4 linked regions of the Homo sapiens genome follow. The protein of the gene in region 1 purifies or fractionates together with the protein of each later gene. This does not show direct contact. Each region holds a gene or a part of one and is shown in the gene's direction. Other genes may lie near its edges.

What was found. The genes of interacting proteins can lie anywhere in the genome.
Region 2: the proteins of PLEKHG6 (region 1) and TMOD1 purify together in Homo sapiens (affinity purification with mass spectrometry; one large-scale study listed by BioGRID and IntAct). This does not show direct contact.
Region 3: the proteins of PLEKHG6 (region 1) and CARNMT1 purify together in Homo sapiens (affinity purification with mass spectrometry; 2 studies listed by BioGRID and IntAct, with this or other methods). This does not show direct contact.
Region 4: the proteins of PLEKHG6 (region 1) and PCDHGA5 purify together in Homo sapiens (affinity purification with mass spectrometry; 2 studies listed by BioGRID and IntAct, with this or other methods). This does not show direct contact.

The regions. Positions count from the first base shown.
Region 1 is NC_000012.12:6,317,021-6,320,766, forward strand, and holds part of PLEKHG6 (pleckstrin homology domain-containing family G member 6), read left to right. Parts: intron 1-282; coding exon 283-393; intron 394-478; coding exon of another isoform or gene 479-526; coding exon 527-676; intron 677-836; coding exon 837-974; intron 975-1,280; coding exon 1,281-1,400; intron 1,401-1,724; coding exon 1,725-1,857; coding exon of another isoform or gene 1,858-1,937; exon of another isoform or gene 1,938-1,953; intron 1,954-1,972; coding exon 1,973-2,088; intron 2,089-2,550; exon of another isoform or gene 2,551-2,653; intron 2,654-3,746. UniProt on the Homo sapiens protein: Guanine nucleotide exchange factor activating the small GTPase RHOA, which, in turn, induces myosin filament formation. Also activates RHOG. Does not activate RAC1, or to a much lower extent than RHOA and RHOG.
Region 2 is NC_000009.12:97,508,109-97,511,854, forward strand, and holds part of TMOD1 (tropomodulin-1), read left to right. Parts: intron 1-3,746. UniProt on the Homo sapiens protein: Blocks the elongation and depolymerization of the actin filaments at the pointed end. The Tmod/TM complex contributes to the formation of the short actin protofilament, which in turn defines the geometry of the membrane skeleton.
Region 3 is NC_000009.12:75,021,605-75,025,350, reverse strand, and holds part of CARNMT1 (carnosine N-methyltransferase), read left to right. Parts: intron 1-3,746.
Region 4 is NC_000005.10:141,362,661-141,367,150, forward strand, and holds the start of PCDHGA5 (protocadherin gamma-A5 isoform 1 precursor), read left to right. Parts: upstream 1-1,501; 5' UTR 1,502-1,670; coding exon 1,671-4,091; coding exon of another isoform or gene 4,092-4,112; exon of another isoform or gene 4,113-4,490. UniProt on the Homo sapiens protein: Potential calcium-dependent cell-adhesion protein. May be involved in the establishment and maintenance of specific neuronal connections in the brain.

The DNA.
Region 1 (3,746 bases):
AGAGTAAGTCCAGAGCAGCAGGCCCCAGTAGCACTGTGGATAGAGGGAGCTCAGAGAGCTCTGGGTCAGTGTCGGGACCTCAGGCTCCTTCGTGGAATCCAGAGAAAGGGGCGTAGCCTCGAGAGCATTCCTGGGAGGATCCTGGGAGGGAGGGACTGTCAGGAGCTGGGCTAAGGGCCCCTGCGAGGCTCTCTTCACCTGCTCCTGGGTCCTGCAGCTAGAGCCTGTATTCATGGCCTTCTCCCCATGCCTGCTCCCCACCTCCCGTATCTGTCTCTCCAGTTTGGCCAGCGGTTCCACCCCTATGTCCAGTACTGCCTCCGAGTGAAGCAGACCATGGCTTACGCCCGAGAACAGCAAGAAACTAACCCTCTCTTCCATGCCTTCGTGCAGGTGGGAGAAGGGGTGCTGGGGAGGGGGACGGGTGCATCTTAGCCGGCCGGTCTCCAGCTGAGCCTGAGGCTGAGTTCACCACTAGGCAGGGCAGGAGGGAGCAAACCCTGAGCCCCACCCACCTTCCCTGCAGTGGTGTGAGAAGCACAAGCGCTCTGGGAGGCAGATGCTCTGTGACTTGCTTATCAAGCCCCACCAGCGCATCACCAAGTACCCACTGCTGCTCCATGCTGTGCTCAAGAGGAGCCCCGAGGCACGAGCCCAAGAGGCCCTGAATGCCATGGTAGGTGCCCCAGTGGGGCTGGGACTCTGGTGAATCGGGGACTGGGAGGGGGGTCTCTTTCTTAGTGTGTCTGTGACAGTGTGGCGCTGTGCTGTGGCTGGCATTGGTTGGGAGGGGACGGCTGAGCCGTCCCTCCTCCCACACCCCCAACCCCACCTAGATTGAAGCCGTGGAGTCATTCCTGCGACACATCAATGGGCAGGTCCGCCAGGGCGAAGAGCAAGAGAGCTTGGCGGCTGCAGCACAACGCATCGGGCCCTACGAGGTGCTGGAGCCACCCAGTGATGAGGTGGAGAAGGTGAGAGGGCAAAGGGAAGGGACCCAGGAAAAGCAAGGTCCCAGGGATACTGGTGAAGGGGAGGGCTGCAAGGCCAGAACACCCCGTACTTGGGTGCTACAAGGGTGTCCATCATTCCTACCTGGTGGTGACAGTCCAAGGGGTACAGGTCAGAAGAGCAAAAAGGAGGCCCTGGGAGGCTTTCTCTAGCCCATGGGGGAAGGATACAAACAGAAAGGTGTTGGTGGCAGAACCAGGAGCCGCCCTTGGCCAGGAAGTCCAGGCAGACTGCCGAGCGCCCTGACCCCTCCCCTCTGTGTCCCTCAGAACCTGCGCCCATTCTCCACCCTGGACCTGACGTCCCCCATGCTGGGGGTTGCATCTGAGCACACCAGACAGCTGCTGCTGGAGGGGCCTGTGCGAGTGAAGGAGGGACGAGAAGGGAAGGTGAGGGTGCTGCGGACAGAGTGGAGGGGATGGGGCACGGTGGGAGAAGGTAAGAGGCAGAAACGCCGGAAGTGGGAGAAGAGGGGTTTGGGGAAGAGGATGTGGTTCTGGCTAAGCCCCAGTCATTTGTGTGACCCTGAGCCAGCCACTTTGCCTGCCTGTAAAGTGAGAGATGTGACCAAAGCGACGCCCCTGGCCACTCCCGCATTTGGGCTCTGCGTGTGTCCCTGTGTGCCTGCGCACCATGCCTGAGCCTCCTCCCGGACCAGCCCTGCCCCTGGCTCCAGCTGACCCTGTCTCTTTCCCCTACGCCCCCACCCCCAGCTGGACGTGTACCTGTTCCTCTTCTCTGATGTGCTCCTTGTGACCAAGCCCCAGCGCAAGGCGGACAAAGCCAAGGTCATCCGACCCCCTCTCATGCTGGAGAAGCTCGTGTGCCAACCCCTGCGAGACCCCAGTACGTCCTTCCTTCAGGGAGTCTTTTCTTCTCCCTCTTCTCAGCGAGGGGAAGGAGGAGCTGGGACGGAGATCAAATAAAGGCTGGCCTCTTGAAGGTTGTCTCCTCCATCCAGACAGCTTCCTGCTGATCCACCTCACTGAATTCCAGTGTGTCTCCAGCGCCCTCCTTGTGCACTGTCCCAGTCCTACAGACCGTGCCCAGTGGCTGGAGAAGACCCAGCAGGCCCAGGTATGGGAAAGCCAGCAACGGGGAGGCATGGGCAGGGGTCCCCGGAGCTCAGAAATGGGAGCACAGTGGTGGATCACACCTGTAATCTCAGCACTTTGGGAGGCTGAGGCAGGTGGATCACCTGAGGTCAGGAGTTTGAGACCAGCCTGGCCAACATGGTGAAACCCCGTCTCTACTAAAAATACAAAAATTAGCCGGGCGTGGTGGTGTGTGCCTGTAGTCCCCATTACTTGGGAGGCTGAGGCAGGAGAATCACTTGAGCCCGGGAAGTGGAGGTTGCAGTGACCTGAGATCGTGCCACTGCACTCTAGCCTGGGTGACAGAGTGAGACCCTGAAGAAGAAGGAAAAAAAAAAGAATGTAGGAAGGAAGGAAGGAACGAATGAACATGGGAGCGCAGAGGGGAGGAGGAGAGAGGCTGGGGTGGATTCAGTTTCAGACTGGACAATCTGATGTGCCCCAGAGAGGGAGGCAGAGCCTCCACCATCCATCAGAAGACAGAAAAAGCCTTTGGCCAGCTACTGTGCCAGCCACTGGGAGAGCCCAAGATACAGCATCCCCTGAAGGTTTGTACAGCCTGAAATGATTAACTTCTAGAAGTCATCTTCCATTCGCAGACATTTACAGGGCACTTGCTGAGTACGGCAGGCACTAGAGCTAGGTGCTAGGGAATCAGAAAAGAGTAAACCACCATTCCTGCCCTCAAGGCCTAGGTGCTGCAGCCTGGTTGAGTAATTAGTATACAAACAATAGAGAGAAGTTATGTAGAATGAAGCTGGGACAGAGAAGGGAGCAAGGCATTGTCTGCTGGGTCTGTTTGGAAGGGACACAGAGGAGCTGATGTCTGAGCACCATTTGGGAGGATACCTAGGAGTATGTCAGGGAGTCAGGGTGGAAGGGAAGGGCATTCCACATGGAGGAGCAGAACGTGCAAAGGCGGGAACTGTGAAACAGTTGTGTGTGTTGAGAGAACTGCCCCCATTGGTATTGCTACAGTATCAAGTACAAGAGTAGACGCAGCAGGGAGAGGCTAGGGGGTAGGTGCCACCAGGTCATGCCCATCTCTGCATGTCATGATAAAGCATCCTATAGATGAGCTTTGTCCTTTGGATGACAGAGGGCCAGTGAAGGAGTCGGGCAGGGGAGTGATGTGAGCAGATAAAAAGCAGGAGGAGTTCAAAAGAAGAGAGATGCAAATGGAGCTGTATTAGGTCCCACAAACTTGGTGGCCTAAAATGCATCAGAAGCTTACTCTCTCACAGTTCTGGAGGCCAGAAGTTTCAAATCAAGGTGTTGGCAGAGCTGAGTTTCCTCTGGAGGCTCTAGAGGAGAATCCATCCTTGCCTCTTCCAGCTCCTGGTTGCCCCAGGCGTTCCGTGGCTTGTGGTAACAAAATTCCAAACTCTTTCTCTGTCTTCCCATGGCCTTCCTCTCTGTATGTCTCTGTGTCCAAATTTCCCCCTCCTTTCTCTTACAAAGATGTGAGTATTAGATTTCGAGCCCACCCTAAATCCAGGGAGAACTCATCTTGAGCTCTTAGGATCTCTGCAAATCTGCGAAGACTCTTTTTCGAAATCAGGTCACATTCACAGGTTCCAGAGGGTAGGACTTAGATATATCTATCTTTTGGGGGGGCCACTATTCAACCCACCACAGGAA
Region 2 (3,746 bases), on another chromosome or scaffold:
TCTGGAGACCACCTTGCTGGATTCAAATCCAAGGTCTACTAGTTACTGGCTCTGTAATCTCAGGTAACTTTTAACATTTCTTTCTTTCTTTTTTTTTTGAGACAGAGTCTCGCTCTGTCACCCAGGCTGGAGGGCAGTGGGGCGATCTCAGCTCACTGCAACCTCCGCCTCCCAGGTTCAAGCAATTCTCCTATCTCAGCCTCCCGAGTAGCTGGGACTACAGGTGCACACCACCACACCTGGCAAATTTTTGTATTTTTTAGTAGAGATGGGGTTTCGCCATGTTGGTCAGGCTGGTCTCGAACTCCTGACCTCAGGTGATCCACCCACCTCGGCCTCCCACAGTGCTGGAATTACAGGTGCGAGCCACCGTACCCAGCCAACTTTTAACATTTCTGTGCCTGGTGTCCCCATCTATAAACTGGGGTTGTTGTGGGGATGAAATTAGTTCTTATATGTAAAATGCTTAAGACGTGCCTGGGATATTATGTAAGCGTGAGCTGTTATATTATGGGAAGGTGGCAGCATGGAGTACTGGTAATGAGTACTGATGGCCTGCCTGGATGTAAATCCTGGCTCTACCACTTATTAGCTTTGTGACCTTGGTCAGTGTACTTACTGGGTTAAACAGGGTCCCCCCCAAAAGTCATGCCCACCTAGCACCCCAGAATGTGACCTTTCTCTGGAAATATGGTCTTTACAAATGTAATTAATGAAGTTAAAATGAGGTCACACTGGATTAGGGTACGTCCTAACTACCCTATGACTGGTGTCTTAAGAAGAAGAGTGGACACACGCCCTTAAAAAGGCTTGAGATGGCTTAAAATAAACCTATATAGGCAGCATAACTAGTAAGAACAGATGATGATAGAGTCAGAGATTGGAGTGATGTGGCTGCAAACCAAGGACTGTCAGGGATGGCCAGCAGACACCAGAAGGTAGGAATGAGGCATGGAACAGATTCCCCGTCAAAGCCTCCAGATGGAATCAACCCTGCTGACACCTCGATTTTGGACTTCTGGTCCTCTGAACTGAGACAGAGTAAATCTCTGTTGTTTTAAGCCATCCAGTTTGTGGTCATTTATTATGGCAGCCCTATAAATCTAACATAGTCTGCACTTCTTCATCTGTAAAATGGGGATAATAAAAGTATCTGCTTCACAATTATTAAGACTGCAAGAAATAATCCATGTAAAGAGCTTAGCATTGTGCCTGGTATGCAGTAAGAACAAAACAAAGCTTCTATTATAAGGTACAGTGACAAGTGGCCAACAGTAGCCTCAAGGATGGTGTTAATAGTAGTCTGTTGTATGTCTCTAATTTATTTACTCAATGTCTTATTGAATTTTTATGCCGTTTTGGGGGTTTTGGGTTTTTCTTCGCTAATAGAGGTTTTTTTTTTTGTTTTTTGTTTTTTTTTTAGACAAGGTCTCACTCTTTCACCCAGGCTGGAGTGCAGTGGCTCACTGCAACCTCCACCTTCTGGGCTCAAGTGGTCCTCCCCCAAACCCCAGAAGCTGGGACCACAGGTGCATGCCACCATGCCCAGCTAATTTTTTGTATTTTTAGGCGAGACGGGGTTTCACCATGTTGCCCAGGCTGGTCTTGAACTGAAAAAGGGTATACCAATGTAACTTCTCTTCTGTGTGAGGACACTGGTCTCCCCACATCTTGTCAACACTGGGAATTCTCAGACTTTTAAATCTCTGTCAATCTGATAGAACTGATATCTCCTTCCACAATTTGCTTTTTTATAATTATAAGTGAGTTTTGTTATTATTTATATGTGTATTAGCCATTAGTATTTCCTTTTGTGTGAACTGTCTATTCCTCTCCTCTTTCCACATTTTCTGGCCTGTTCTGTTTTTTTATTGGAGGAACTCTTTGTCTATTAAACAAATCAGCCTTTTGTTTAATATGAAGCAAATATATTTTCCCCCAGCTTGCCGTTTGCTTTTTGGTATTGTTCGTATTAATTTTCATATTGGTTTTTTGGAAAATACAAAAACATGTTTCATAAAGCTCTATCTTACATTAACACCTGCTATGAGGCTATGTGATGAAGTTCATGTTTGTAAAATGGAGAATGAGGATAGGAATGAATTCCACAAGCTTTCCTACAAGTTAGCTTTTTTTTTTTGACACTGAGTCTCACTCTGTTGCCCAGGCAAGAGTACAGTGACACAGTCTCGGCTCACTGCAACCTCCACTGCCCAGGTTCAAGCGATTCTTTTGCCTCATCCTCCCGAGTAGCTGGAATTACAGGTGCCCACCACCACGCCTGGCTAATTTTTGTATTTTTAGTAGAGATGGGGTTTCACCATGTTGGCCAGGCTGGTCTCGAACTCCTGACCTCAGGGGATCCACCCACGTCAGCCTCCCAAAGTGCTGGGATTACAGGCCTGAGCCACCACACCCGGTCTACAGGTTAGCTTTTATTCTACAAGTGCTTTTGACTTACGGCTATCAAAGCTAATAATAATGCTAGGCATTTATTCATTCATTCATTCATTCAACGAATATGTCTTCAGCACTGGACAGGTGCAGGGCTTTGTGAAGGACCATGGGAGACAGAGATGTTTGTCCTCAGGTAGCTTTTAGTCTTGTGGGAGTAGGGGTGCCTGAAGATAATGCAATAACTCCCAAAGAACTCTGATGGCCTCTCTTGTTTGTACTACAATCGTTAGCTTCCTAGAACTCTCTTCTGCTGGTGTGGAGGGAAATGAAATGGAAGGGGCAGAGCGTGGGGAGAGCTAAGTGTGGCCTGAACCAGAAAAGTTGCAGAGACATAGGAGGAGTGGAGTGCAGCATGGTTTGAGGGCAGGTGGGCAGGCCAGCTGAGACAGGGAGATGTCTTCAGACTCTTTTCCTGGAACCCTGTTGCTTACAGATGATTGCTGTGGTGACTCAGACACCATGATGACCCCAAGAGATGCAAAATGAAAACATGCACCCGCGCGCGCACACACACACACAGACACACACACACACACACACACACACAGGCTTTTCCAATTTAAACCACTTGACAACTTTGACGTTTAGAGCATCGAGCATGGCTCATTGTGTTCTGGGATGAAGCTCATAGCAACTGCAGAAAGTGATGGAGTCAAACACTATGTTTAGTGTGTTTGTTTTTTTAGAAGGTACTTTCCCATATGACTAAGAGAATGAAATCAGCCAGTGAAAATAACTGCAAATGAGCCAGAAAACAAGTCTGTTAACAATAGCTGGTCTCTAAGTCCCCATCCTCCTCCATTCAGGGGCTCCACGCACATCTGTCATAATAGAACTAGGCCTTAAAGGGCCTTAAATCCTGTATTGTCAACTCCCCAATAACCACCATCAATCAAGACATCAACCCTCTCTGGAAGACCTCATCTAGGGCTCTGCCATCGCTGCTCACAGCCTATAGAGACAGGTGCTCACTACTTCCCGGCTTAGCCCAGTGTACCCCTGGGCAGTTTTTGTTTGTTTGCTTGTTTGTTTGTTTGTTTTTTGTGTCTCATTCTGTCACCCAGGCTGGAGTACAGTGGTGCAAACAGGACTCACTGCAGCTTCTTCCTCCTGGGCTAAAGCAATCCTCCCACTTCAGCCTCCTGAGTAGCTGGGACTACAGGAGTGCGCCATCACACCTAGCTAATTTTTAAATTGTTTGTAGAGACAAGGTCTCACCGTGTTGCCCAGGCTGGTTTCAAACTCCTGGCCTCAAGCGATCCGCCTGCCTCTGCCTCCCAAAGTGCTGG
Region 3 (3,746 bases), on another chromosome or scaffold:
AGTAAGCTCAGATGTTACCAGTATCTTCTTAAAATAATCACTCTGCTTTTGTCTGTCAAGTAAATTGCATATAGCAGTAAACAGATTTCATCAAATTTAATGCAATACCATAAACCTTAAATAACACCATGGGTCCCATATGACGTGCCACTGGTGATGCTGCAGGTGCTCCCAAGAAGCAGAGAAAAAAGACATTACAAGAAAAAGTTGATTTGTTTGATATGTACTGTAGATAGAGGTCTGCAGTTGGAGGTTGCCCCCCAACCCCATTTCAGACAGAGGATTCATCTTGTAATCAAATTATGTAAACTTATAGTATTGATAAATGCAGTGCAGTAGTGTAAATGTATTTTCCCTTTCCTACGACTTTCTTAATATTTTCTTAGCTTTATTGTAAGAATATAGTACGTAATATATTAACATACAACATATCTGTCAGTTGTTTATGTTATTGGTACGGCTTTCGGTCAGTAGTAGGCTATTAGTAGTTAAGTTTTTGGTGAATCAAAGTTAGGTGTGGGTTTTCGACTGCACAGGGGGTTGGTGCCCCAACCCAAGTATTGTTCAAGGGTCAGCTGTACGTCCAGATTTTGCAGGGTTCAATTTTACTGCAAAATGTCTTTTAGTTAATACGTAGGAGATTTAGATAAAAGGTCATAAAGCAAGGAATGTCTTTTGATTAATATTTTCTCTTTCTAATGGGTTTCAATTTTGTGATTCCCACAGATTTTGCTTAGATGACATTCTCATTAAGGTAAAAATGGATATAGCTCATTTGTATTGAATAGCAAAAATGTTAGTTTTATAACCCAGTCTTGTTACGAATGAAGCACCTCAGCACATAGAAAACACTAGAGTTGAAAAGCTGAAAGTCTTTTCAGAAACTTCTTACTTTTAGAAATAACGGGGTGAGATTTTTTAATATTGAGATTTAGAACTGATTTTTACAGGTGAGGATGTGGATAGACACAAAGCGGTAAGCAACTTGCTCAGGGTTACACAATCCAGTTGTGGTAGAATCTGACCTAAAATCCAAAATCGTTACCTAAAATTTTACTGTGCATTAATGAGGAGTTATACTAGTAACACAAATTTAATGTTAGGTATTTAATAAAGATTTAAAATGAATCAAGACAGGCCAGGCTTTGTTTCTGACAAGTTATGTTTTTTCTATTTGGATTTCCTAGAGTAGTTCAACTAGGTGCAGAGGAATGGGCCTGTGACCATGGCCTTTAGATCAGACCTGGTGTGGGCTCACCCTGATGACAGGTGACTAAATCAGAGTTGAGGTCACTGCTGACACCAGGTTTCTAGAGAGAGTTAGAGGTAGAGATACCACCATTGGGGAAAAATGGCTACTAAGTTTACTTTCTCCTCTTATCAGCAAGAGGATGTCACCTCCTGATGCTGACTTAGTTCAGAACCAAGGAGAGTCTGATTTTTGTAAAATACTCCTTCAAAGCAGGTTTGGCAGAGTTTCTTAAAAGGGCCAGGCAGTAAATATTTTAAGCTCTGAAGGCCAAGTGGTCTCTTGTTACAACTCATCAACTCTGCCCTTGAATGGAAGGAGCCTTAGGCTTTGTGTAATCAAATAGTGTGGCTTTGTACCAATAAGACTGTACAAAAACCAGGTAGCCAATGGGCCCCTGCCTTAAAGCAATTCTGATAGCGTAAGCATGTGCAGGATAGTGAAGTTAGCCCCAGTTATAAGGGTATAATAAGGATTGGACTATATTCTCAACTTTAGTAAGATCCCACCTATTTTAAGAGTCACTGGTGGATGTATGTTATGGCAGCTTTGCACACCATTAAGTAACCAGGGGTTTAAGGATCTCATCCTGCTCTGTGTAGTTACTTCTGTATCAAAAATTGACAGCTCTTGTAACCAATCTATAACTTATCTCAACTCACCCTTGCAACCTTGATATTACTTGGTGATAAGTAGTCTCCATGGAAAACCAAAAGTGGCACCCGTGGGAATATAACTGAACATTTATTGCTTTTTACATATGCTGAAATACGGAGATATTGAATAATGACCAAGATGACACTTGTGTTTTAGAATAATTCTTCTGATTAGAGGTGGGGCAGGAAGGGCAGGGGAGGAGTTAGGAAGTAGAATTGAAAAGTATCCTGGGTTTATTGATTGTGGGACTAGGAGAAGAGGCATTTAGGATGACTCCTTAATTTCTTTTTCTTTTTTTTTTTTTTTTTTGAGTCTTGCTCTGTCACCCAGGCTGGAGTGCAGTGGCACAATCTCAACTCACTGCAACCTCTGCCTCCCAGGTTCAAGCGATTCTCCTGCCTCAGCCTCCCAAGTAGCTGGGATTACAGGCGCATGCCACCATGCCTGGCTAATTTTTTGTATTTTTAGTAGAGACAGGGTTTCACTGTGTTAGCCAGGATGTTCTTGATCTCGAACTCCTGACCTGAAGTGATCTGCCCACCTCAGCCTCTCAAAGTGCTGGGATTACAGGCGTGAGCCACCATGCCCGGCTGATGACTCCTTTAATTTCTAACTTGGGTGCATTTGTTAATCTTAGCCATGAAGGAAGGAGGGCAGGTTTTTGTGGGGCATGTGCTAAGTTCACTTTGGATATGAGTTTTGAGTATGGTGAGAGGGAAGTTGTGGGGCATCCAGAGCCCGGGAGTAAACACTAGGAAGAAAGCTCTGTGAGGCTGTTCAACTGTTGAAGCTCTGCTGTTTGCCTAACTTGATGTGGCCATTTTAGTTCCTTTAATGTCATACTCTGCTGTTAGGAATGTAAATTTATGGAGTCTTTTTGCACATCATTTTATATCAAGAGCCTTAAAAATACTAACTCCTGGCCAGGTGTAGGGGCTCACGCCTATAATCCCAATATTTTTGGAGACCAAGGTTGGCAGATCACTTCAGGTCAGGAGTTCAAGATCAGCCTGACCAACATGGTGAAACCCCATCTCTACTAAAAATATAAAAATTAGCCGGGCATGGTGGTGTGCACCTGTAGTCCCAGCTACTTGGGAGACTGAACCAGAAGAAGCGCTTGAAGCTGGGAGGCAGAGCTGGCAGTGAGCTGAGATCATGCCACTGTACTCCAGCCTAGGTGACAGAGTGAGACTCCATCTCCAAAAAAAAAAAAAAAAAAAAAAAAAAAGTATTCCTTCTCACCTGGTAATTCTGGTTTTGAGAGTTTATGCTAATTTTTTTCCTAAATTATAGACAGATTTTGAACACAAAATGTTCATCACAAAAACAAGTGAGTGTCTAAATGCCCAGTAGTTGGGAAATAGCTAAGTCACTGATGGTTACCTAAGATGGAATGATGAACATCCACTTTGTACCCCACAAATATAGACAATTATAATTTGTCAGTATTCAGCTTAAAAAAAGTAAGATGCTAGATGACTTTTTTTTTTCTTCTCTTTTTTGGAGACAGGGTTTTTGCTCTGTTACGCAGCCTGTAGTGCAGTGACACAATCATAGCTCGCTGCCCCCTTGACTTTCTGGGCTAAAGCAATTCTCCTACCTCAGCCTCCCAAGTAGGTGAGACTACAGGCATGCACCACCACGCCTGGCTCATTTTGTTTTTTTATTTTTTTGTAGAGAGGATGGTCTTGCTATATTGCCCAGGCCGGTTTTGAACACCTGGCCTCAAACAGGCTTCCCACCTTGGCCTCCCAAAATACTGGGATTACTGGCATGAGCCACTGCAACTTTGTGTTAAGCAAAACGGAAATGTGCCAAAAGGTTAGAAGTGGTTCCC
Region 4 (4,490 bases), on another chromosome or scaffold:
ATGTTGTGCCTTAATTGTCTTAATCTTATCTAACTGAATTTTAAGTGTTTTCTCTCTGAAGTGTGAGATTTATTTACCCATGATTGCAAACCTTTATCACATGAGATATTGCACTGTATTTCTTTTTCTTCCTCATCTTTACATTACTTCTCTCTGCAGATTTGTTGCTATTGAGACTTTAGGCAATTAGTTTCACCTTCAGGCTCTTTGTTATTCAAATTTTAGTTTTACTTCCTCTTAGAATCATAATACTTCAGAGTAAAGAGAGTCTTCATTTTAGTAGGCTTTGGAAATTGGGAAACAAAGAAGAAAGACTTTTGCATAATGGCATGGCTTGTTAATCACAGGGCATGGGTAGGACATTGTCCCATTGACTTGAAGACCAACACTCAGTAAGCTAAATGTCTTGGAATCACAAATGTATTTCTAAAGGACAGGCAATGTTTGAGGTCTGAGGTGTCTGCTAGAAAGAGTGCATTTAACAAATGTGAGAAATCATTCTCTAACATGCATTTTAACAAATTGCTCTTAAGAAAAACTACACATTGAGAAAAATCTTACAACCTATGTTCACATCATTTTCTACAAAATATTACTTAAAACTTTGCTTTTGAATTTCCTAATTATATAGAATTTTTATTTTCTTAGTTTTCTATGAAAGTGTTATTAAATAAAATGACTTTCTGAAATGTCCATTTTTTTCAATCAAGAGGTTTTTCTATTTCTGTTGTCATATAAAGATGATAGCAGTAAATATCTGTCTCAACATAGAAAGGTCACTCAGTACTTCTCGACAAGTATCTGCTCATGCTTTCCTGCATGGATGATGAAATAAAACCCCATCCTCCACAGTTACTATACTGGTTGTCACTGGAACTACAAATATTTGAACATGGTAATAGAAAAACATAAAAATGCATAGTTAACCCAACTCAAACGCTGTCTGAGATAGTGGAGAGACTTTCTCAAAGTCCTCACAAGTAACAAAGATCTTTATTTCTTCTGCATATGACAGCTAATATAACTTACATAAATCAGTAGGCCTGTTTGGAAAGGTGCATGGAGAACTGGGTTTGTTTCCTTGGTATTCTTATATGCAAATAAGCACGTTTTCCTAAATTTATCCTAATAAGGAGATGAAATCTTGAATCCTACAAAGGTAAGAATTTGAATGTCCTAATTTAATGGACTAAATATAGATAAGAGGTAAATAAAGGACATAGGCTCCCCCGATGACGCATTAAATAAAATTTTTGTAAGGTATTGAGATCTAATAATCATATTGATCTCAGGGATTGTGGAAGTCTTGCTATTCAGAATTAAAGCTGAATTAACGGTCATAAACAACGCTACACAGTTAAACATTAAGGATATGGCAACATTATTAGAAATAAAATTATAACTAAACTTAGGAGAAATAAAAATGGAATTTGATGCAGTCACTGGTTAGGACTCTGAGTGTCGCTGTTGACCAAAGTGGGAAAGAAGCTGCCGCAGAGGCGACCCGACTCTGCTCCCTCCATACTAAACACACAGACCAGACAAGCTCCTACGAAAAGCCAACGCTCCACGCCCATTTTCGTCAGGGAATATGTACCCATCGGCTTTAGATAAATAAGGAAACAGCAGGCTGAACCAGAACTAAGAGAAAATTGGGCAGAGAGAAGGCAATGGCGAGTCCACCTAGGGGCTGGGGCTGCGGAGAGCTGCTGCTGCCCTTCATGCTCCTGGGGACGCTGTGCGAGCCAGGATCCGGGCAGATCCGCTACTCGATGCCGGAGGAGCTGGACAAAGGCTCCTTCGTCGGCAACATAGCCAAGGACCTTGGGCTGGAGCCCCAGGAGCTGGCGGAGCGCGGAGTCCGCATCGTCTCCAGAGGTAGGACGCAGCTTTTTGCCCTGAACCCGCGAAGCGGCAGCTTGGTCACCGCGGGCAGGATAGACCGGGAGGAGCTCTGCGCTCAGAGCCCACTGTGTGTGGTGAACTTTAACATCTTGGTTGAGAACAAAATGAAAATTTATGGAGTAGAAGTAGAAATAATCGATATTAATGATAACTTCCCGCGTTTCCGGGATGAAGAGTTAAAAGTAAAAGTTAATGAAAATGCGGCTGCAGGGACACGGTTAGTGCTTCCCTTCGCGCGGGATGCGGATGTGGGTGTGAACTCTCTCCGGAGTTACCAGCTCAGCTCCAATCTGCACTTCTCTCTGGATGTGGTAAGCGGAACTGATGGACAAAAGTATCCGGAGCTGGTGTTGGAACAGCCCCTAGACCGCGAGAAAGAGACTGTTCACGACCTCCTCCTCACAGCTTTAGATGGCGGAGACCCGGTACTCTCCGGCACCACGCACATCCGTGTTACGGTCCTCGACGCAAACGACAATGCGCCCCTGTTCACCCCATCCGAGTACAGCGTGAGTGTTCCAGAGAACATACCTGTGGGCACTCGGCTGCTCATGCTAACCGCCACGGATCCAGATGAGGGAATAAACGGGAAATTGACCTACTCTTTTCGCAATGAAGAAGAAAAAATTTCGGAGACTTTCCAACTTGATTCCAACCTGGGGGAAATCTCAACTCTACAATCACTGGACTATGAAGAATCCAGATTCTACCTCATGGAAGTGGTAGCTCAGGATGGAGGCGCTCTTGTTGCCAGCGCTAAGGTGGTGGTCACAGTACAGGACGTGAATGACAATGCCCCCGAAGTGATCCTCACCTCTCTGACCAGTTCGATCTCTGAAGACTGTCTTCCCGGAACTGTAATCGCGCTGTTTAGCGTACATGATGGTGATTCTGGAGAAAATGGTGAGATTGCATGCTCTATTCCTAGGAATTTGCCTTTTAAATTGGAGAAGTCAGTTGATAATTACTATCACCTATTAACAACTAGGGACCTGGACAGAGAAGAGACTTCAGATTATAATATCACTTTAACCGTCATGGACCATGGAACCCCGCCCCTCTCTACAGAAAGCCACATCCCCTTGAAAGTAGCAGACGTTAATGACAACCCACCCAATTTCCCTCAAGCCTCCTACTCCACCTCTGTCACAGAAAACAATCCCAGAGGTGTCTCTATCTTCTCTGTGACAGCCCATGACCCCGACAGCGGCGACAACGCTCGAGTCACCTACTCCCTGGCTGAAGACACATTTCAGGGGGCGCCCTTGTCCTCCTATGTATCCATTAACTCTGACACCGGTGTCCTGTATGCTCTGAGATCCTTCGACTATGAGCAGTTGAGAGACCTACAGTTGTGGGTGACAGCCAGCGACAGTGGGAACCCTCCACTTAGCAGCAACGTGTCGCTGAGCCTGTTTGTGCTGGACCAGAACGACAATACGCCTGAGATCCTGTACCCCGCCCTCCCCACAGACGGTTCCACGGGCGTGGAGCTGGCGCCTCGCTCCGCAGAACCTGGCTACCTGGTGACCAAGGTGGTAGCGGTGGACAAAGATTCAGGCCAGAACGCCTGGCTGTCCTACCGCCTGCTTAAGGCCAGCGAGCCAGGACTCTTTGCGGTTGGGCTGCACACGGGCGAGGTGCGCACAGCGCGAGCCCTGCTGGACAGAGACGCGCTCAAGCAGAGCCTCGTGGTGGCCGTCGAAGACCATGGCCAGCCCCCTCTGTCAGCCACCTTCACGGTCACCGTTGCCGTGGCCGACAGGATCCCTGACATCCTGGCTGACCTAGGCAGTATCAAGACCCCCATTGACCCTGAGGATCTGGACCTCACACTCTATCTTGTGGTGGCAGTGGCTGCAGTCTCCTGCGTCTTCCTGGCCTTCGTCATCGTGCTGCTGGTGCTCAGACTGAGGCGCTGGCACAAGTCACGCCTGCTTCAGGCTGAAGGCAGCAGGTTGGCGGGTGTGCCCGCCTCGCACTTTGTGGGCGTGGATGGGGTTCGGGCTTTCCTGCAGACCTATTCCCACGAGGTCTCCCTCACCGCGGACTCGAGGAAGAGTCACCTGATCTTTCCCCAGCCCAACTACGCAGACACGCTCCTTAGTGAAGAGAGCTGTGAGAAAAGCGAGCCTCTTCTGATGTCTGATAAGGTAGATGCAAACAAAGAAGAACGGCGAGTTCAGGTTAGTTTTCTCTTTCGGTAAGGATGACCAGAACATTTTCATTTGTTTCCTTTTTCATGTTTCTGTCATATTCAGAATCAGCTAGTTATGTAAATAGTGGAACATTATTTGCTGTATTGGAGATTAATTTTTTTTATATAATTCATGCTTTCTCCATTTGTTTTCAAATTCTGTTTTGGGAAGTCTAGCTGATATCTGTAGACTTAAGTGAAACAAATACCTTAAAGGAAAGTGGTTAAATATAATCATTTTACCCAAATATTTTGTTATATTGGAACTGCAGTTCTATTAATAGAAAAGATGTTTTATTTATTCAAATTGTTAGATATATTGTTCTCTTTTGAGTGTCTGCCTAGACACCATTAGTGAATGTGTTTTGGAAAGGATAATGTATAGGAC